Linked DNA regions of Homo sapiens. The protein of the gene in region 2 interacts with the protein of the main gene of each other region in a biochemical or structural test. Each region holds a gene or a part of one and is shown on either strand. Other genes may lie near its edges.

Region 1 (7,036 bases), on a different chromosome or scaffold from region 2:
AATCTCGGCTCACTGCAGCCTCCGCCTCCTGGGTTCAAGCAATTCTCCCACCTCAGCCTCCCAAGTAGCTGGGATTACAGGCACGTGCCACCATGCCTGGCTAATTTTTGTATTTTTAGTAGAGATGGGGTTTCACCATGTTGGTCTGGCTGGTCTCAAACTCCTGACCACAGGTGATCCACCTGCCTCGGCCTCCCAAAGTGCTGGGATTACAGGTGTGAGCCACCGTGCCCAGTCTATTTTTGTATTTTTTGTACAGATGGAGTTTCACTGTGTTGTCCAAGCTGATCTTGAACTCCTGGGCTCAAGTGATCCACCCAGCTCAGCCTCCCAAAGTGCTGGGATGACAGGCGTGAGCAACTGGCCAGGTTATTCTTATTCTGCCTGGTGGGAAGGTTGGCATTAAGGGAGTTAGAAGAGTCCGGCTGGAGCATCTGGAAGAGGGTGCAGCCTGAGGCTGCTGTCATCACAGGGTGCTTACCCTTCTCCACAAACTCCCGTGTCTGCTGATTGCTGAGGTTGGGATAGGGGGAGGCCCCCAGGCTGAAGGTCTCCCAGAGCAAGATGCCAAAGCTCCACACGTCGCTTTCGGAGGAGTAGCGGCCTGCAGAGGAGGCGAGGAGGTGAGGCAGCGTGAGTGCACCCTCCCTGGGGCCAGGGCGAGGCAGCCGGCAGGACCCAGGCCTGGCCTCTGGCCATGGAGTCCAGGGTAGACAGGGACTAGGTACCGTAGTTAAGGGCCTCAGGTGCGGTCCACTTCACGGGGACTTGTCTGAGGCCCCCTGAGGCTGCATAGACCCCATCGGCTTCCTCTCGGGACATCCCAAAGTCACTGATCTTCAGGACATTCTTCTCTGTCACCAGGCAGTTCCGAGCAGCCAGGTCCCTGGGTGAGACAGGGCAGGGGCTCATTTGGCCAACAGTCGCCTGCCCAGCCCTGGCTGAACACTCTAGGAAAGCCAAGGACAAAAGCTGCTCCCGGCCCTGGGCACCCCTGTCTACCACAGAGGCCAACTCCCCCTCTGGAGCTGATGCCTGATGGTCCAGCGGGGGGCCCTAGGGGTATAGGTACCTCTTGACTCTGGTCGGGGGTGTTGGCAGGGCCCGTGGCCACCGCCCACTCACCGGTGGATGCAGCACTTGCTCTCCAGGTACTCCATGCCAGCAGCTGCATCCCCCACCATCTGCAGCAGAGTCTTCACCCGCAGGCGGGCCCCCTCCGTGCGGAGGAAGGTCAGGAAGTCGCCCCCTGCAGGTGGGGAGGACCCCTGCTGAGCCTCCTGAGGTAAGGCTGCCACCTGACCAGGCTGCGCGCCCTACCTGGAGCTCAGCGCCCCGCGCTCACCCTGCACAAGCTCCATGACGATGTAGATGGGCTGCTTCTGGGTGCAGACACCAATGAGACGCACGATGTTGGGGTGGCTGTACTGCTTCAGGATCCTGGAGGGCACTGCTGCTCAGGATCTACGTGGCCAGGCCCGCCTCCCCAGGGCCCCCCAGGGATGATGGGAGAAGAGCTTGGCCTCCAAGGCCAGCAGACCCGGACGTGTGACCTGGGGCAGCCTCTACCCTTCGGCACTATAAGGGGGTACTACCCGCAATGGGGGGCCTCGAGGACTAAACACCACCACGGTGGTCAAGCACTTCACACTGTGCCATGCAGTGTAACCTCTGTGTATGCGGGACCCGTGGTGATCATTAGTTTATCACCCACCTCGCTTCCTGTAGAAACTTGGCCTTGAGGTCAGGTGGGAGCGTCTCTCGACAAGACTTCACCGCCACCAGGGTGTTGTCGGCTCGCAGGCGTCCGCTGAACACTTCGCCAAAGTTCCCCTGAAACGGTCTTGGGCTCCTACCACGGCCTTCCCAGTCCCGCAGTTCTCTTCTCCGCTTCCTACCCATTCTGCTTCCTACCCCTGGGTGAGGGGCCCCCGTGTTCGGACCCCTCACCCAGGCTCTCTGGGAGTTTGACCCTCGCTGGGGAACCTAGAGAGCACATGGGGCAGGCAGGGAAAGTTGCCTCCGATGTGCCACCCTTCCTGAGAGAAGTGACATGGAAATCCAAAAATCACTCTCCCTTGGGTTTGAAAAGCATTCTGATTTTTAGGACAGTGACTTCTTCCCTAAACAGGTATCTTATGGCTTACAGTAACAGGGTGTCTCCCTGCGTGCACACAAGAGCTCGATGGGGGCGGCCTGGGTGGGGGTGATGAGGTCAGGGTGCTGGCAGAGCTGTCTGCTGGGAGTTTTCAGGGTAGGTACTGTCCCGTTTCCTGGAGGATGGTGTGTGGTGGGGGCTGGGCAGGGAGTCGGGGTACAAGTGGGGAATCAGATGGGGCAGGGAGGTCTCTGGGTGGTAGGGCAGGGGGCCCAGGCGCGACTCAGGAGAAGTCGCCAGCGACAAGGAGGCCAGCAGAGGCGCACTCACCCGTCCAATCTGCTCACCCAACACCAGGTCCTCATGGTTCAGCACCCACTTGTCCTGGGGAAGAGAGGAGACAGGGGATCAGAAGTCTGAAGAAAAGGGGTGCTGGGCCCTTAGAAGGGCTGTGTCCTCCATTTTTTGGCGCCTCCATATGTGACCAGGGGTGGGACCACGTGGGGAGCACACTGAGATGACTACGGGGTCCAGGCAGGTGCCCTGACCAGGTAAGCACCAACCTGGTGTGTACAGCCCATGGCATAGGAGTGGCCCTGACATTCCAAACCTAGAGCAAGGCTGGCCCTGAGGGTCACTCACTCTGCATCTTGTATGTAGACGGAGGGCCTGGAAAGCCCTTTCTGCTCAGACGCTGGGTGGGCCTGACCCACACTCCCCAAGCCCTGCCACAGGTGGCATGGGCCAGGCTGGGTGCAGGCTCACCTTGGGCACAGCCCTGTGCAGGACAACACCACTCTTCTTGGTGAGGGGCTGCTGGGTGCTCAGTAGGTGGTCGATGAGCAAAGGAATGCTAGGAAAGCCTTCCCCTTCCAGTCGGTACAGGTTCTGCAGGGCAGGGGACCCGGGGTCAGCAGCCTCCATTCTGAGGGGGCGTGAGCCCTGGGAGGGGGAAAGGGAGAGCAGCAGGGGAGAAAGGGCCTGCCCAGGACCAGGGGCAGAGAGACCTCCAGAAAAGATGCCATCTGATGGCACATGACATCCTGCTGCCCCACCAGGGGAGGACTCACACTTAAGCCTCTATTTTGTTGCAGGGACAGGGTGGTCTCTGTGGCCCCTTCCAGCCAGCCCTGCTAGGGAGGCATCCAAGACCTGGCAGCTACCCCCTACCCTGAAAGGCCATTTCCCTTGGGGAAGGGAAGGGAGGGGAAGAGTGAGGCCTGGAAGGCTCGGGTCCCAGCCCCACTCACATCCAAGGACTGGATGATGAAGTGCCGGGGCAGACCATCCCACAGCACCGACAGCACGTACTCCTGCTTGCCCTGGCTCTCCCGCACCAGGAAGTCCCCAGAGTGCACCAGCAGCTCAGCCACCTCTGCCCTCGGGATGGCCCCGTGGTACCACAGCTGCTCATGCAGGGGCTTCTGCACCTCCGGAATGAGCTGCAGCGGTGGAGGGAGCTGGGCAAGGGAGGATCGAGGAGGAGTCACTTAACCACCTTGTTGAAGAGGCCGTGGGGGCAGCCGGGGGTCTCTCTCTCCCCCCTATATGCCCTCAGCCCTTACAACCATGGAGTGGCATGCAGAGCCATCCACAGGCCCCTGGAGTGGGCACTGGACTGGCCCAGGCTCACGCTGGGCAGAGCTGGGAAGGGAAGCCCAGGCAGGAAGACCCCAAACCAAGCTGGTGCCTCCTCCTCCAGGCCACAGGCCCCCAACCCGCTCCTGAAGCAGGGAGAGCCATGGAATAGTCGAGGTTGCTGGTCCCTTTAGCACACTGGGGCGATGGAAAGGGAGGGGTCACAGGGGCAGGGTCTGGGGACATCTGCAGCCTGGAATCCCAGGGAAGAGAGGAACTTCCCAATACAAGCAGCCTGGGCAGAGCCTCCTCTCTAGGACATCCCAGTGATTAAACTCGAAACACAACAGTAGGGGGGCCCAGGCTGGGCGCCACTCACCGAGAACTTGGGGCGGAAGATTCCTGAGATGTGGCTCTTAAGGATCTCCAGCGTGGGTGTCCTTCCCCCCTCTCGCTCCTGCTCCTGAGGCCAGGGACAGACGTCAGCGGGTGGCCAGGCTTAGGGAGGGGGAGGGCGAAAATGAGGAGCGCAGCCCCAGGTGGGCAGGCCGGTGGCGGGCAGCGGCCGCGGATGGGGCAGCTCACCGAGGACGACGTGGAGTGGCGGTCATCCTGCAGGAGCAGCACAGGCGGGGGCTCGCCGGGGCCCAGGTGCTCCAGCTTGGTCTGCAGCAACTCCTGCTGGGCCTGCAGCTTGGCCTGGCTGCACAGCGCTACCTGCAGCCCCTGCAGTGCTTCTTGCAGCACTTGCCTCTTGCCCAGCAGCTGCACCCTGCAGGCAGGGGCGGGTGGGAGGGTGGATGAGAATAAGGGCTCGGTCTGCGGCGGGTAGCCAGCAGCAGTTAGGGTAGGTAGGAGGGAGGGAGGCCCAGGAGGCTGCTGCAGGCAGGGGCCCACTCACCGCTCCCGGGGGTGGGTGTTCTCCTCTTCATTCCGGAGCTCCTGTTGCAGCTGCGTAACCATCTCCTGCCGCCTGAACACCATCTCGGTGGCCACAGCCAGCTCATCTGTCACTGAGGTCAGCCTGCACCCAAGAGAAGGGCAGCATTAGAACCGAGCCCTCCTGCCCCCTCAACCCAGGTCCAGTGCATCCCTGTAGAGCCAAGCAAGCCCGGCCACCTGGTGACAGCTCTGTGTGGACAGTCTCCACGACCTAGCCCTGCCTACATAAACACTCGTGGTCTGCTGGGAGCCCCGCCGCAGCCCAGGTGCAAAGCCACCACCCACGTGTGCTGCACGCTCTCCACAGTCAGCTCGTTCAGCTGGAGCTCCCCAGGCTCCAGCGGTTCACCCTCCTCAAGCAGTGACTCATCGAACGTGACACAGGGTGGGACGTCAGGTGCGGACCTGTGGGGGACAGCGCCCCGTCAGTGGACAGGCCAGCAGCCCTGGGCCCAGCAGGAGCAAGGACGGGGCTTACCCATACTGTCGCAGGAAGCCTTGGTACTCAGCCTCAGGCTGGATGCGGGCAGCAGCTGCAGCCATCTCCCGGTGAATGGCCACCACCTCATCCTGCACCAGGCTGCTAATCTCCAGGTATTCCTGCAGGATCTCCTTCCTGCCCCCGAGACGGGATCCCCAGTCAGGGGAGCCTCAGGCTGGGCAAGGCTGGGCAGTTCAGGCCTAGGACCCTGGGTTTGGAGTCAGGGCTGGGGTTGACCCCTGCCTCACTTCGAGCTAGCCATGCCACTCTAGGCAAATTATTTAACCTCTCCCTAATCTTCTATTTCCTGATATATATAAGAGGGACACTGGCAGTTGTAATAAGGATCCAGTGGGCCAGGCACAGTGGCTCACGCCTATAATACCAACACTGGGAGGTCGAGGCGGGTGGATTGCCTGAGGTCAGTTCGAGACCAGCCTGGCTAACGTGGTGAAACCCCATCTCTACTGAAAAAGCAAATACAAAAATTAGCCAGGCATGGTGGCACATGCCTGTAGTCCCAGCTACTTGGCTACTCGGGAGGCTGAGGCAAGAGAATCGCTTGAGCCTGGGAGGTGGAGGTTGCAGTGAGCCAAGATCGCGCCACTGCACTCCAGCCTGGCGAAAGAATGAGACTACATCTCTAAATAAATAAATAAATAAATAAATAAATAAATAAATAAATAAATAAATGAACTGCTATCCTTGTCTCCTAAACCTCTTCTTCCCACAGCCTTCCCTACATAAGTTAACAGCCACTCCATCTTCCAGCTGCTCCAGGCCAAATCCCCAGAGTGACCCCTGACTCCTCTATTTCACGCCCCACTTCCAATCCATAGGGAAATCCCACTGGCTTCACCTTCCAGGACCTGACCGCGCCTCACCTCCATTGCTACCTCCCCGTCCTAGTGGCCAAAAGCTTGGATCTGGATTATGGCAAGAGCCTGCTCTCTGGCCTCCCAGCTTCTGTCCTTGCTCCCTGAAGTCTATTTGCAGCACAGCAGCCAGAGTGGCCTTATTAAAACAGAGGTCAGGGCTGGGCATGGTGGCTCATGCCTGTAATCCCGGCACTTTGGGAGGCAGAGGCAGGCAAATCGCTTTGAGCCCAGGAATTAGAGACTAGCCTGGGCAACATGGTGAAACCCCATCTCTACTAAAAATACAAAAATTAGCTGGGTGTGGTGGCGCATGCCCGTAGTTCCAGCTACTCGGGAGGCTGAGGCAGGGGAATCACTTGAACCTGGGAGGCGGAGGTTGCAGTAAGCCGAGATCATGCCACTGCACTCTAGCCTGGGCGGCAGAGCGAGACTCTGACTCAAAAAAAGTTAAAACAAAATGAAACAAAAAAACAGAGGTCAGATCATGCCATTCTTGTTCACCCAGAGCCAAAGTCCTCACCATGGCCCTGCTAGACCCTCTATCACCCAGTAGCCCTTGACGCCTGCCTCCTCCAGCCTCGTGTATGACTCTCCCCCTCCCTCACTCTCAGAGGCACCACTGGTTCCTGGCTATTAGTCCCTGGTACTCTCCTACCTCAAGGCCTGTGTAATTGCTGTCCTCCTTTCTGGAATGGTCTTTCTCCAAATAGCCCCATGATTCACTCCCGTACCCCTCTCAGGGGCCTCTTTGAATGTCACCTCTCAAGAGGCTTTCCCAGATCACTCTATGGACAACTGTCACCTCCTCCCTTGCCTCCGTGCTCCCAGGTCCCGATCCACTTCTCTTGCTTTATTTTTCTCCATGGCTCTTAGTGCTCCTCACATCCTCACTCCACTAACACGAAAGATCCCTGAGGACAGATGTTTTTGTCTACCATCGTTCTCTGGTATAATCCAGAGCCCAGAACAGTGCTCAATGAATGTAATAAAACCCTGGAATAATGAGACCCTGGAATAGTGTAATTCAGAGGTAAGTTGCCTGTTTCCAATCCTTGGCCC
Region 2 (7,000 bases):
GTTATTATTTACATTTTGCAGGTGAGGAGACTAAGCACAGAGATTAAATAACTTGCACAAGTTTACACAGATAGTAAAGGGCAAACTTGGTATTCAAATCCAGGTATTCTGAAGTTAGAGTATGCTGCATTTTTGACCTCTAAAATGTACATCCTCCTTTCTACTGATGGAGAAAGAGGATGAAGATATATAATAAATGAAAAAGTAGTTTAGAACTGAATGTCTAGTTTGCTGTCATTTGTATTTTAAATTTTTTTAAAAAGTGACAGCACACAGTAGGATACCAAAGAAACGTAACAGTTACTTATAAGGAGCAGATGGATGGCCTTTCAGCTTTCACTTTCCATCTCTTTCATGGGTGTTTTAATAATAGGCATGTATTACTTGATTTTTTTTTTTTTTTAAGAGACAGGGTCTCGCTCTGTCACCTAGTCTGGAGTGCAGTGACATAATCATTGCTCACTGTAGCCTCTTACTCCTAGGCTCAAGCTCTTCTCCTGTCTTAACCTCCAAAGTAGCTGGAGCTACAAGCATATGCCACCATGCCGCACTAATTTTTTAAATTTTTGTAGAGATGGAGTTTCACTATGTTGCCCTGGCCGGTCTTAAAACTCTTGGGCTCAAGTGGATGCTCCTGCTTTGGCCTTCCAAAATGCTGAGATGAGAGGTATGAGCCACTATTCCTGGCCACTTACATATATTTTTAACTGAAATAAATGTAGCTGACATTTTGAAAAGTTGTAATATTTAATGAAGATTAAGCTAAAGTCATGAATAAAAAATGGTTTATCTATCCCTGCTTACATACTGTTATGTAGGGTTTCCCTTGTCCTAATATCCTACCACCAGCTCACTTCAAATTCACTTCCTCTGGGGTTCATCTCTTATCTGATCCTACTTTTGAATACTTACATTTTTGTTTTTGTTTTTTGAGACAGGACAGGGTCTCCACTCTGCTGCCCAGGCTGGAGTGCAGTGGCATGATCTCAGCTCACTGCAGCCTTGACCTCCTGGACTCAAGTAGTCCTCTCTCCTCAGCCTGCTGAGTAGCTGGCAAGCACCACCACGCCTGGCTCATTTTTTAAATATATTTTTTTGTGGAGATGGGGTTTCACCATGTTGCCTGGGCTGGTCTCAAACTCCTAAGCTCAAGGGATCTGCCCGCCTTGGCCTCCCAAAGTGCTGGGATTACAGCTGGGATTACAGGCGCGAGCCAACGTGCCCAGCCCCCAGATACTTAATATTTCTGATTGACAGAGTACCTCATTTGTCATTTAGCCTTTTTTTTTTTTTTTTTGGAGACAGAGTCTTGCTGTGTCGCCCAGGCTGGAGTGCAGTGGCATGATCTCTACTCACTGCAACCTCCGCCTCCCAGGTTCAAGCAATTCTCCTGCCTCAGCCTCCTAAGTAGCTGGGATTACAGGCACGCACTACCATGCCTGGCTAATTTTTGTATTTTTAGTAGAGACGGGGTTTCACCATGTTGGCCAGGCTTGAATTCCTGGCCTCAAGTGATCCGCCTGTCTTGGCCTCCCAAAGTTCTGGGATTACAGGCGTGAGCCACCATGCCCCACCAAAATGTAATTTAGCCTTTTAAATGGCCTAAATTTTCTATTGTTTCCGAAAGGACTTGATACTGCTTACAGTAAGATAATGATGCACATCATAGGAACTATAAACATTGAGATTACAATTATATAGCCTAATATAGTTCTACAATTGAGCAGTAAATTTAACTTAGTTTCCTGGAAGTAGGCAAAAAATAAAATATTTTAAGTTCTGTAGTTGTGGTTTGACAAAAAGACACATATGTTTTTGTTTAAAGGAACATTTTTCTGATTCTAAATTTTGAGAAGAAATGTGTTTCATGGACCCTTTTATGCAATTTATCCTGTTCTGGTTACTTCTTGTTTTGTTGTTTTTTTTGTCTACCCAACTAAATTATAAGCTTCCTTAGGACACACTCTATTTTTCAATACTATTTTTGTTCTATCTCTGCCTAGAAAATTTGCGCTTATTATAGTTGAAATGATAAATTAGGCAACAATTGCAACATAGCCATATTTCATGGATAATGTTACCACCAGTTTTCAAAGACTTAATTTTTGAGTAGTTTAGGAATTTATATTACTTTCATCCCTTTCAGCAGGGAATCCTTTTTGAGACAGGGTCTCACTCTGTCACCCAGGCTAGAGTGCAGTGGCATAATCATGACTCACTGAAGCCTCAATCTCCTGGGCTCCCAGGCTTAAGCTGTCCTCCCACCACAGCCTCCGGAGTAGCTGGGACTACAGGTGTGCACCATACCCAGCTGTGTTCTTTGGTTCTTTGGGGTGTTTTTTTTTTTTTTTTAGAGATGAGGTCTTGCTGTGTTGCCCAGGCTGGTGTCAAATTCCTGGACTCAAGCAGTCCTCCCACCTCAGCCTCCCAAAGTGCTGGGCCGATCAACAGGGAATCTTTTGTGATAGCCTTCAAAAAAAATAATTTATTTATTTGTATGTAGCACTCTGTCATCTTGTAGCCCATACTTTCTAGCTGAGTATGTAGTATGAAAAACTGGAAATTAGAACTTTGGTTTTATGAAAGTTAAATCTTTTTAAATAGGGCTTATAGCTTTCAACTACCTTTTCCTTTCCCTTAGGCCAAGTCATCAAGGCATGGGACATTGGGGTGGCTACCATGAAGAAAGGAGAGATATGCCATTTACTGTGCAAACCAGAATATGCATATGGCTCGGCTGGCAGTCTCCCTAAAATTCCCTCGAATGCAACTCTCTTTTTTGAGGCAAGTATGTGTGTGATGTTGCCTTGTCAGCATCTGCTCTACAATAGGAATGGCTTTGAAGCAACAGGCAGTGGGAAAAGGAGCTAAGCTTGCTATAGAGAATCAGATCCAACTTACTTATTTTGGAGCATGGCTTCTTGAATTGTTTCCCACAAACCCAAGGGTGCGCGTGCCAGTGCTTTCTTAGAAACGTGTTTCTAGCACAAAAAGGTCATATCCAAATAAACAAAAGACGCTACACTTAGAAATAAAGATTCTGGTCCATGGTGTGAGTGTGACATACTCAAAATTGACCAGAGTACAGGATGGAAATGTTGGCGATAAATGTTGAAATATGCCTATGTCACGTTGCGGGGTATTTACATATTATAAAAATTTATGTGTCACAGATCTCACTTCTCTAGAAGCCGTTGGTGGTGATAAAACATTATTCATCCTATGTTGAATTACATATATTTGGCAAAACTTGATTTTTAAGAACCACCCCAGCTAGGTAAAATACACCTTTAATCAGTCGTAGGTCACATCCATGAGATTTATTCTTACATTTTGAGAAGGGAACTCCATAAACCCAGGATGGGAAAGTTGTGGCCTCAAACAAAATAGTTCTACACCAGCACCTTGTAGCTCTGGCTTTTTGCCCACAGGGTAGTTTTCCTAGTATTTCCTATCTTTGCACTGCAGTCCCTTAGGATATAGTTCTAGACATTAGCATTACATGAAATTCTTTCCAAGTATGGAAAAGTATAGTGGGTTTTTTTTTTTTTGCTACTTTTCCAATAATTAAGATGCATAAATGAATGTATATATTTTAAAACAGCTTTATTTTGTAAAATGAAATAATTGGTTGCCCTTGCCTTCACATATGTTCAGTTGGCTTTATTTGGTCTTTTCTCAGCTGAATTCCTTTTTTCTTTCTAGATTGAGCTCCTTGATTTCAAAGGAGAGGATTTATTTGAAGATGGAGGCATTATCCGGAGAACCAAACGGAAAGGAGAGGGATATTCAAATCCAAACGAAGGAGCAACAGTAGAAAGTAAGTATTAAAGTAAGAGGGAACTAGTCCTTAAAAGTTGGGCCATTTATGTGGACGAAATGGAGACTTAAAAAAAAATGTTTGTAGAAATGAATATATCGGCTGTGCGCAGTGACTCACGCCTGTAATCCCAGCACTTTGGGAGGTCGAGGCGGGTGGATTGCCTGAGCTCAGGAGTTTGAGACCAGCCTGGCCAGCATGGCGAAACCCCATCTCTACTAAAAATACAAAAAACTAGCCAGGTGTGGTGGTGCACGCCTGTATTCCCAGCTACTCGGGAGGCTGAGGCATGAGAATCACTTGAACCCGGGAGGCAGGGGTTGCAGTGAGTCGAGATGGTGCTACTGCACTCCAGCCTGGATGACAAAGCAAGACTCTGTCTCAAAAAAAAAGTATTGAATATATCTCAAAGATAGTCTTAGCTGGGCACAGTGGCTCATGCCTGTAATTCCAGCACTTTGGGAGGCCGAGGCAGGAGGATCTCTTGAGCTTAGGAATTCGAGACCAGCCAGGACAGCATAGTGAGGCCCCATCTCTACTAAAAAGCATCAAGAGAATTAGTCAAGTGTGGTGTCACGTCCCTGTAGTCCCAGCTACTTGGGAGGCTGAGGTGGAAGAATCACTTGAGCTCTGGAGATGAATGCTACAGCAGAGAGCCGTGATTGTGCCATTGTGCTTCAGCCTGGACAACAGCAAGATTCTGTCCAAAAAAAAAATAGTTTCAGGTTCAACATTTATTTAATAATTTTATTTAGTAAATATTAATTCAACATCTACGTGTCAGGCATGCTACCAGCCTCTACAAACTCAAAAATGAATACAAAGTAATTCCATCCACAAGAAATTCTCAATCTGTGGACTCTCTGGTGTGCCAACAACTATATTAGTTGCCTGATATGTTTGTTCATTTATTTCTCACAACCTTAAGAGGTAAAATTTCTTGTCCCCAGATGAGAAAAGTTAATTCAGAGATGTTAAATAAATTGCCCAGGGTTACAGAGTTACTAAACAGAGCAGTAGATTATAATCCCTTTTAGGACTCAAATACATCTCATCAGCTGTCATCAAGATTAAAAAATAGTTCATCATTTAGATCAATATTGGATAATAATGTTCATTCTATTCCATATCAGGAGACCTAGGTTCAAGTCCTGCTTTGGTGTTTATTGAGTAACCTGAAGCTATTCCGTTTCTTCATTTGCTAAGTGGGAGTAGGGGCAGCTCTGAGGACTGAGATAGCTAACTCTTCTTCCCTCCCGGAGCAAATTATATGTACCACTGTGTATACTACTTGTCACTTTACATTGTAATCAGTATTTGCCCATTTCTCCCAGTATACTTTGAGTGCTTGAGGACCAGAATCTTTCTTCATCCTTTTGTGTTCAGCATTTCCTGCAGTGCGTGACACACATTTGGTGTTCAGTAAAGGCTTTCTGCATGGATAAGTGCTTGAGAAGTGTCATTAGTGAGCTGAAATCCTTCAAAAGAGAGTTGTGAGAAAACAGAGAAATACTTCCATTAAGAACAAAAATCAAATCATTCAACAAGGATGGGAACATGAACTATTATTATAAAAGGTCTGTTTAAAATAATTATTTCAAAAGCCAGGTGTAATGGTGTGCACCTGTAGTCCCAGCTACTTGGGAGGCTGAGATAGGAGGATCACTAGAGGCCAGGAGTTCGAGGCTATAGCGTGCTATGGTTACACCAGTGAATAGCCAGTGCACTCTAGCCTAGGTACCATAGTGAGACCTTGTCTCCTTAAAAAAAAAAAGTAAAGAGTTCATTTAAACAGAAAACAAGAATAGCTGAGTTTCTTTCTTTTAAAGTATATACTATTTTCAACCCATATTTCATTTCTACGAGTCTGGCAAATCAGTTTAAATTCTGTTGTTTTGGGAAGCAGTTACAAATATTATTTATCCCAAATTGCCATTTGGGATAAGTTTTTGAATACATGAAGAGCTTTAAATGTAGAATACCAGGGAAATAGCTCCAGACTAGGAGTTGGGAGATAGGGTTCCAGCCTCAGCCCTGGCCTCAGGCTGGCTTCAACTAGACTTCACCTCTGGGCGTTAGCTTCCTTCCTATGCAGTGAGGCAAGCTTGAACCTCTTGATTTTTAAGGTCCTACTAGCCCTAAAACTCCATCATAGAATTCTAAATATTTACAAAAGTTGTAGGAATGATAGAAAATCATCTTCACTATATTAGTAAGCACTTAAGCTTGTCTATAATGTGTATTTTAAATTTTTCTTATGAAAAATTTCAAATGTATGTACAAAGGTAGAGGTTTACTCCTATGGATACAGGCACACCCTAGATTCAGTAATTTATAATATATATTTTTAAACTGGAGGGTTTTGTCAACTAAGAGGAAAAACTTTTCCCAATTATAGACAATATCACAAAATTACCGCTGTGGAGATGACTTTAGAGCAGACTAAATTAAATCAGATCTTGCTTTTGGTAATACTTGCGATGGGAGTCAATTTTTTTTTAACTTTTTGTTTTGAAATAATTTTAGAATTACAGAAAAGTTGCAAAACTAGTATAGCGCGTTCCCTTATATGCTTTACACAGCTTCCTCTAAATGTTAACATCTTACCTAATCACAGTACATTTATCAAAATCAGGAAGTTAACATTGATGTAGTACCAGTAACTGTTTTCCAGATCTTATTTGAATTTCACCAGTTACTACACTACTGTCGTTTTCTGGTCTAAGATCAAACTCAGGATCCAGCATTGTATTTACTTTTTTTTTTTTTTTTTTTTTTTTTGAGATGGAGTCTTGCTCTGTCATCCAGGCTAGAGTGTAGTGATGCTATCGCAGCTCACTGCAACCTCCACCTCCTGGGTTCAAGCAATTCTCCTGTCTCAGCCTCCCAAGTAGCTGGGACTATAGGCGCACGCCACCATGCCCGACTAATTTTTGTATTTTTATTAGAGACAGGGTTTCTAACATGTTGGTCAGGCTGGTCCTCAAGCTCCTGACCTTGGGTGATACACCCGCCTCAGCCTCCCAAAATGCTGGGATTACAGGCATGAGCCACCGCACCCAGCCTACTCTACTATTTTGAATACAACTGACCGTTTTGTAGAATATCCCTCAATTTGGGTTTCTGGGATGTTTTTAGATTGAGGTTATGCATTTTTTGAAAATACCACTGAAGTGATGT
Region 3 (7,036 bases), 6.2 Mb from region 2:
TACTCATGAAAGGTAGCAAATCACAGCCAGATGATGTATCACAGAGCTTTCTGTGACAATAGGATGTGGAGGTGTAACTTCTCATAATAGACTGCATCAGAATGAGTGTGCCATAGGAGAAGCTTTTACCAGGGTGTAGTCGTCACAATACGTGGGGGCATGAACAGAAATGGAATTCACAGAGGGGCTTGGCCTTATTTTATATTCCTATTCACCATTTTTTTGAAAATTACTGCAGCTCTGGCTAGGAATCCTGGCAGTGACTGCCACCTTCAGCAGAGGGAGTATGTGAGCTAAGATGAAGACAATATAGAGTCAGGCTTTGTTTCCCTAAAATGAAATTCACAAAGAAAAAGAAATTACTGATTCAACTGAGATTGATCAGTTCTGTCTCCATTTCATTAAGCTGGCCAGGAAGACAGGTAGAAGACTGACAGTTTTGAAACTTCACAGGCAACAGATCAATGCATCTCATCCCCTCACCATAGGTTTCCTTCTCTGCCATTATTTGTACTTGCCTAGAGAAATCCTGATAAATTGGCATATCTGACAACCAAAGAACAATCCTTTCTTGTAAAGATAAACAAAAGTTATTTCTTGCCTAATCTATCATATCCAAAAATGATGGAGTTAAAGCTGTTAATATTCTTTTGTTCCTTACAAGTAAAAGGCTTCAGGAATCACTGTTTTTTTTTTTTTAAATATTACTCTAATGAAACAATTTGATTCACCTGACTCTGTATCTCAAAATGGAACAGGATAGGTGAGTCTATAGTTAACCAGGTATAAAATTTCAAATTTTGTTTTGAAATGGCAAAATGATATCGAGCATAACTTTGTGGTTTTTGTTTTTGTTTTTATTTTCCCTAAAAGAGGTCTTGCTATGCCACCAGGCTGGTCTCAAACTCCTGGCTTCAGGCAATCCTCCTGCCTTGGCCTCCCAAAGTGTTGGGATTACAGGTATGAGCCACTACACCTGGCCTCAAGCCTGACTTTTGATTTTTGTTCTGATTCTTCAAAGAGCGGAACAGGTTTCCCACAATTTATTTTATTTTATTTTATTTTATTTTTTATTTTATTTTATTTTATTTTATTTATTTATTTATTTATTTATTTATTTATTTATTTATTTTTTATTTATTTTTTTTTTTTGAGACAGCATCTCGCTCTGTCACCCAGGCTGGAGTGCAGTGGCGCCCACCTTGGGGTCTCCCAAAGTCCTGGGATTACAGGCGTGAGCCACTGCACCTGGCCTAAGATTTTTTTTTTCTTCAAAACTGGTAATCTAAACTATTATGTGACTGAAAATTGATTTCTAGGTCTCTGCACAGTCCATTAACTTTATACTTTTAGTTTCCAAATCTATATATGCCACAAACCCCAAACATAAGCATCCACATATTTGTTCTGCATTTCCTCTGTCCATACTGGATTAGCAGAAGCATTAAGTGTTAGTGTGGCAAGATGGAAGGACCCTGATAACATGCCTCTGTAACCATATGTAAGAGTTCCATTTTAAAATTACAGACAACACAGAAATACTTCCGTATGACCCTCTCTGAAATGTGAACTTTTCAGGCATGTGAACAATAAAAACAAAATGCAGAAAATATTTCATGAAGCTGCCACTGAGCAATGCACCTTAAGACTTGCTTTCTTGGTTCCACTGTACCAATCTTTAGCATCACTTTTGACAGACATTAAGTCTACCAGTTCAGTACAAAAGCTTGCTTTTCTGATATCGCACCCTTCAGAAAGGCTATACCATCTGGGTTTAGATTAAGTAAGAACTGTCAGACTCTACATTCATGAATTTAAGCAGCAGCCCCACAGCACTAAGAAGCTAAGTACTAACATTCTCAGAGTCCCCATTTCAGGAGCCACAACTTTAAAATCCCTTCCAAGATGACAACTAATGTCAATCAGGAGGTCAATCAACTCCTAGGTCTTTGTTTCATTTGTTGTTGTTGTTGTTGTTGTTTGAAACGGAGTCTTGCTCTGTTGCCCAGGCTGGAGTGCAATGGCGCAATCTTGGCTCACTGCACCCTCCGCTTCCTGGGTTCAACCGATTCTCCTGCCTCAGCCTCCCGAGTAGCTGGGATTACAGGCATCTGCCACTATGCCCAGCTAATTTTTGTATTTTTAGTAGAGACAGGGTTTCACCATGTTGGTCAGGCTGGTCTCAAACTCCTGACCTCAAGTGATCTGTCCGCCTTGGCCTCCCAAAATGCTGGGATTACAGGCGTGAGCCACAACGCCCAGCCTTGTTTTGTTTTTTAATACATAATTAAAACAAGTCCATGTTTTTTGTTTTTAGAAAAATGGGAGAAAAAGATCTTTAAAAGATGCTTTAGAACCATTCAATATCATTAGTGTTACTTTTGACTAAAGAGGACAAAGCAGCACCTTAAACTGATATTCCAATTATTCTTCCCCACTACGCCCCCTCCTCCACACAGCACTCACTGTTACACTGGTCACAAGCGTAGATTCTCCCTTCCAGGGCCTCTGTCTCTGTGAATTTGGCCAGCATCTCAGTGAGCAAGCACTCTGTTTGATTCAAAGGGACAAACCCCTTTTCTATGCAGTGATAGCGTTCAGGGAATTCCAGGGATAGGTCCCAAAAGGGCTCAATGGTATTGGATTTGTAATTGCATGATATACATGTGACCTAGAATGAAAAGATTGATTTACAGATTATATAACTTCCATGCTTCCTGTGTACAGTTTTACTTGCTTCATAAAAGACACACTTTATCAAAACTAAGTGTATAATTTTCAAAAAATAGTAATATTAAAATAATAAACATAACTTTAAAAGAATTAGAGTATATTATTTCTGATGTACATTTCTAACTATGGGATGCTAGCTGGAATTTAAAAACCATACTGCATAGAGACTATACTAACCCCCCTTTTCACCTCTCCCAAAATATGCTCTACCATTCAATAGTACAGTAGTACAGACTGCAAGTTATCATGCAGTCACTCAAGGGATCAGTCTGACACAGATTTGCAGGTCCCTGCCTGCTTCCCTCACCCTGGCATTCCTCCTCTTGACTTCAGACCTTCCATGGGGCCCAGCATGCCTCTCTTTTTGCCTTTGTTACTTGCAGAAGCCCTACACTGAACCCCTCTGTCTGCAGAGCCTCAAAGTGCTGTGATTAGACCTCCATTCCCACTATAACCTTCCCAGGTGCACCTTTCTTCCTAAGGGGAGGGGAGACAGAAGAAGTGCTGATAAATACTCCCCCTTTTACATGCTCAAAAACAAAAGCCTAATTAAACTTTCCCTTTCCATCCCATTCATCATTCTTTCAAAGCCCTAAAAACCAAGACACATAGTGTAGAGGTTTTACCTGAAACTCTTAAGTTGCTCACCAACCCACCCCCCACCACGTTTTTTTGTTTGTTTTTTGGTTTTTTTTGAGACAGTCTCCATCTGTCACCCAGGCTGTAGTGCCAATGGCACAATCTCGGCTCACCGCAACCTCCGCCTCCTGGGCTTAAGCAATTCTCCTGCCTCAGCCTCCCAAGTAGCTGGGATTACAGGCATGCGCCACCACGCCCGGCTAATTTTGTATTTTTAGTAGAGACAGGGTTTCACCATGTTGGCCAGGCTGGTCTCTAACTCCTGACCTCAGGTGATCCACCCACCTTGGCCTCCTGAAGTGCTGGGATTACAGGCATGAGCCACCGTGCCCGGCACACCTGCCTTTTTTTAACTATAGAAATACTCTTTCTGCATATTCTCGCAAGGCCCTGTCTAAGCATTTTTGCTTAGGTTACATGGCTAAAGATGCAGGAAATAAAAGGTAATGGGGAACAGGAAGGAGGCTTGCACTGGCCTTTAGCATGCTCCCAGCTACCTACCTTCCCTGTATGTAAAGAAGGGAGATTGCTCTTTCAAACTATTATGGAACCAGGGTTACAAGCAAACTCTGTTCCCTCAAATTGATCAAAGGATGGCACACCAACAATGGGTACTTAATTATAACAATGAGAATATTATATTACCCCTATCTTCAATAACAATTAAAGATATTCACTGAAAATTAAGCGATGTGGCAAGTTAAACTAAAAATCTGGCCGGAAAGACACTAGGCAAGTTTCCCCAAAAGGCCATCATAATGTACAGCAGAATGAAAGGTATAATGGCCACCCTCCAAATTGCATAATCACAGCAAATGTGGGCTACTCTTATTAGCCCAATAACCCGGGGAAGGCACTCACAGGAAGCCCAAGCTAACATACAAGCCTCTCATTGTCATGGTAGGCACACACATACCTGACTGAGCAGCTGCCCATGAAATATGGTATTCACCACCTTTAAGACCTGTTTGGTGAGCTTCCTCTGGGAGAAGGGGATGAGGATCCGGCGTGTGGTGCCCTCAGACTCGAGTTCCTGCTGCACCTTGTGCAGCAGCTCGCAGAGAAATTCCTGCGCGTCCTGTTGGTCGTAGCCGCGGAAGGCAGGGATCAGGCTCCACACTGAGTGGAGCATGGCGAAGGGCGACACTAGGGCCCACTTCCCGGACCACATGACTCGGAAGAGGGTGTGCAGTTCACGGCAGAGGGAAATGTGCTTTGAACTCGGCTCCTTGTTCTGGATGAGCTCCAGACTCCGACTAATGGAGGCCCTGCCGTTCCAGCAGAAGCCCTCCCGCTCGCATGCCTCGGCCCTGTCATTTCTCAAGGACAGCTCCGTGGCCGAGCTGTTGGTTGGCTTGCCAGAAAGCTGAGTCTTCCCGTTGGTGGCTTTGGGAAACAGATGTTCCGTTTTGGAAGGGTCAAGGTTGAGGAAACATTCTCGGAACTTCTGGAGGTGGCTGAGCACCTGGAGGATGGAGTTCATGTAGCAGGTGTTGCCCAGGTTGCGCAGGCCCGTGACGCCTGGGGCCATGGCCGGCTGGCGACGCAGCTTGAGTGTGGCGGCGGGCACTCTGCGTGAGGTAGGGAGGGCGGCGGGGCGCGAGGCAGCCGGGCCCGCGTCGCGGGGCGTGTGCAGGAGCAGCCGTGCACTCTTGCGCGGAGGGGTGCTGGCCAGCTCCTCCAGCAGCCGCCGTTTCACCTCGCGCCGCCGCCTCCGCGCCTCCTCCTTCTTGCGCTCCAGGGCCTCCTCCTGCCGCCGCTGCTCCAGCTTCGCCTGGCCCCGGGAGCTCTTCTCGAACCACAGCCGCAGCGTCCTGGCCAGCAGGCGCTGACGCCGGTACCACAGAGCCGTGAGCATCTGCGGCTGTCCCTGAGGAGCGCGCTGCGGCAGGACCACGTCCTCACCCGAAGCCATGGACCGCAGCGTCCGCCCACGTCTCACCGGCGTGTCCTGTTTCTGGCCCCGGACCGCCAGGAGGGAGCTTCTTAGCAGCTTCAGGTCCCCCTCTGGGTTATCATTGAGCACGTAGTCCTTGCACAGGTAACAGAACACGTAGAGATCCCGGACTTCCATGGCTAGCGGGTGTCCCGTCTCCTCAAAGTGTTTCAGGGCGTGGTCCTCAATATAGCGGCCGCAGGCCACGTGGGAGCACTTGAGGCAGGCCCACACGGACTCGGTGGTGGCACACTCTAAGCAGCACCACTTCTGAGGGTTCAGGATGGAGTGGTCCTGGGCGAGCCGTAACCGCCCTACATGTTTGCATCTATCCATGTCTTATAGAAGTCGCCACTTTCTCAACCTGGCACGACAGAGTCCCCAAAAAAGAAAAAGAAAAAGAAAACACTTTTAGAAAAATATTTTCCTTAAAAAAAAAAAAAAAAGTAAAAGGCTTGCAATTGATATTTCAACTCTAGATTCATTCATTTTCAACTCCAAATTGGTTCCTTTGAAAGTTAAAAAAAGGCACATTTGGTATAAAGGCAGAGAGTTACAGGACAGTTAAATTACTTAAAAAGGAAGACTCTTACGGAAGGGTTAGCACAAATTTGAAACTTTATGGTGTTTCACATACCAGTGGGAGAGATGAAGAAACTCAAATAAAAAGTCAATTTTAGGTCGATTGCAATGTTTTTCAAAGCAGAGATAACATGATATAAGATAGAAATAAGAGAAAGAAAGTCCTCACCAGTACAAAGTATCATTTTTATGAGACGTGACTAAGGAACATTGTATATGTGGTTTTGTTTTGAGACGGGGTCACTCTGTCGCCCAGGCTGGAGTGCAGTGGCGGGATATCAGCTCATTGCAACCTCCACCTCCCGGGCTCAAGCGATTCTCCCACTTCAGCCTCCCGAGTATCTGGGATTACTGACGCCACGCCACCACACCCGGCTAATTTTTGTATTTTTAGTAGAGACGGGGTTTCAACATGTTGGCCAGGTTGGTCTCGAACTCCTGACCTCAGGTGATCTGCCCACCTCGGCATTCCAAAGTGCTGGGAATACAGGCATGAGCCACCGTGCACAGCCGTATATGTGTTTTTTAATTTATTTTTTGTTTTTTATGTATTTTTTTTTTTGAGGTCGAGCCTCCCTCTGTCACCCAGGATGGAGTGTAGTGGTGCAGTCTCAGCTCACTGCAACTTCTGCCTCCCTGGTTCAAGCGATTCTCCTGCCTCAGCCTCCCAGGAAGCTGGGATTACAGGTGCGCGCACCACCACACCCGGCTAATTTTTTTGTATTTTTAGTAGAGACGAGATTTAACCATGTTGGCCAGGCTGGTCTCGAACTACTGACCTAAATGATCTGCCCGCCTCAGCCTCCTAAAGTGCTGGGAATACAGGCACGAGCCACTGCGCCCAGCCAACATCCGTCTTTTTGAAAAGAACATCTGCATCTTGCAGTAAGGGTGGGAAAACTTTTACCTTCTTTACTGAAAGGAAAGGTAAGTAAAGAACTGGACAAATCTGACTTAGGACAAGAGGTGAAGTGGCTACTGGTATAATATTTAACCAAACTACCGAAACAAAAGAAAAAAAAGCAACGAATCTTCCAGCTGATATATATGAAAATGCTTTTTAAAACAGTAGAACATCCTAAGCATGTTTTTTTTTCCCCCTCCCAATAATGCTTCTTCAATTCAATAATCAGAGAAGCCTTGTGG

Evidence for each region.
Region 1: the proteins of FKBP5 (region 2) and FES form a complex in vitro, tested with the Homo sapiens proteins (one study listed by BioGRID).
Region 3: the proteins of FKBP5 (region 2) and USP49 form a complex in vitro, tested with the Homo sapiens proteins (one study listed by BioGRID).

The regions. Positions count from the first base shown.
Region 1 is NC_000015.10:90,887,504-90,894,539, reverse strand, and holds part of FES (tyrosine-protein kinase Fes/Fps), read right to left. Parts: intron 5,235-7,036; coding exon 5,097-5,234; intron 5,024-5,096; coding exon 4,904-5,023; intron 4,701-4,903; coding exon 4,578-4,700; intron 4,449-4,577; coding exon 4,262-4,448; intron 4,175-4,261; coding exon of another isoform or gene 4,140-4,174; coding exon 4,056-4,139; intron 3,559-4,055; coding exon 3,349-3,558; intron 2,987-3,348; coding exon 2,864-2,986; intron 2,483-2,863; coding exon 2,429-2,482; intron 1,834-2,428; coding exon 1,715-1,833; intron 1,441-1,714; coding exon 1,346-1,440; intron 1,250-1,345; coding exon 1,126-1,249; intron 887-1,125; coding exon 729-886; intron 605-728; coding exon 482-604; intron 1-481. UniProt on the Homo sapiens protein: Tyrosine-protein kinase that acts downstream of cell surface receptors and plays a role in the regulation of the actin cytoskeleton, microtubule assembly, cell attachment and cell spreading.
Region 2 is NC_000006.12:35,615,916-35,622,915, reverse strand, and holds part of FKBP5 (peptidyl-prolyl cis-trans isomerase FKBP5), read left to right. Parts: intron 1-2,641; coding exon 2,642-2,784; intron 2,785-3,705; coding exon 3,706-3,820; intron 3,821-7,000. UniProt on the Homo sapiens protein: Immunophilin protein with PPIase and co-chaperone activities. Component of unligated steroid receptors heterocomplexes through interaction with heat-shock protein 90 (HSP90).
Region 3 is NC_000006.12:41,801,340-41,808,375, forward strand, and holds part of USP49 (ubiquitin carboxyl-terminal hydrolase 49), read right to left. Parts: intron 5,673-7,036; 5' UTR 5,645-5,672; coding exon 4,289-5,644; intron 2,672-4,288; coding exon 2,467-2,671; intron 1-2,466. UniProt on the Homo sapiens protein: Deubiquitinase that plays a role in several cellular processes including transcriptional regulation, cell cycle progression or innate immunity.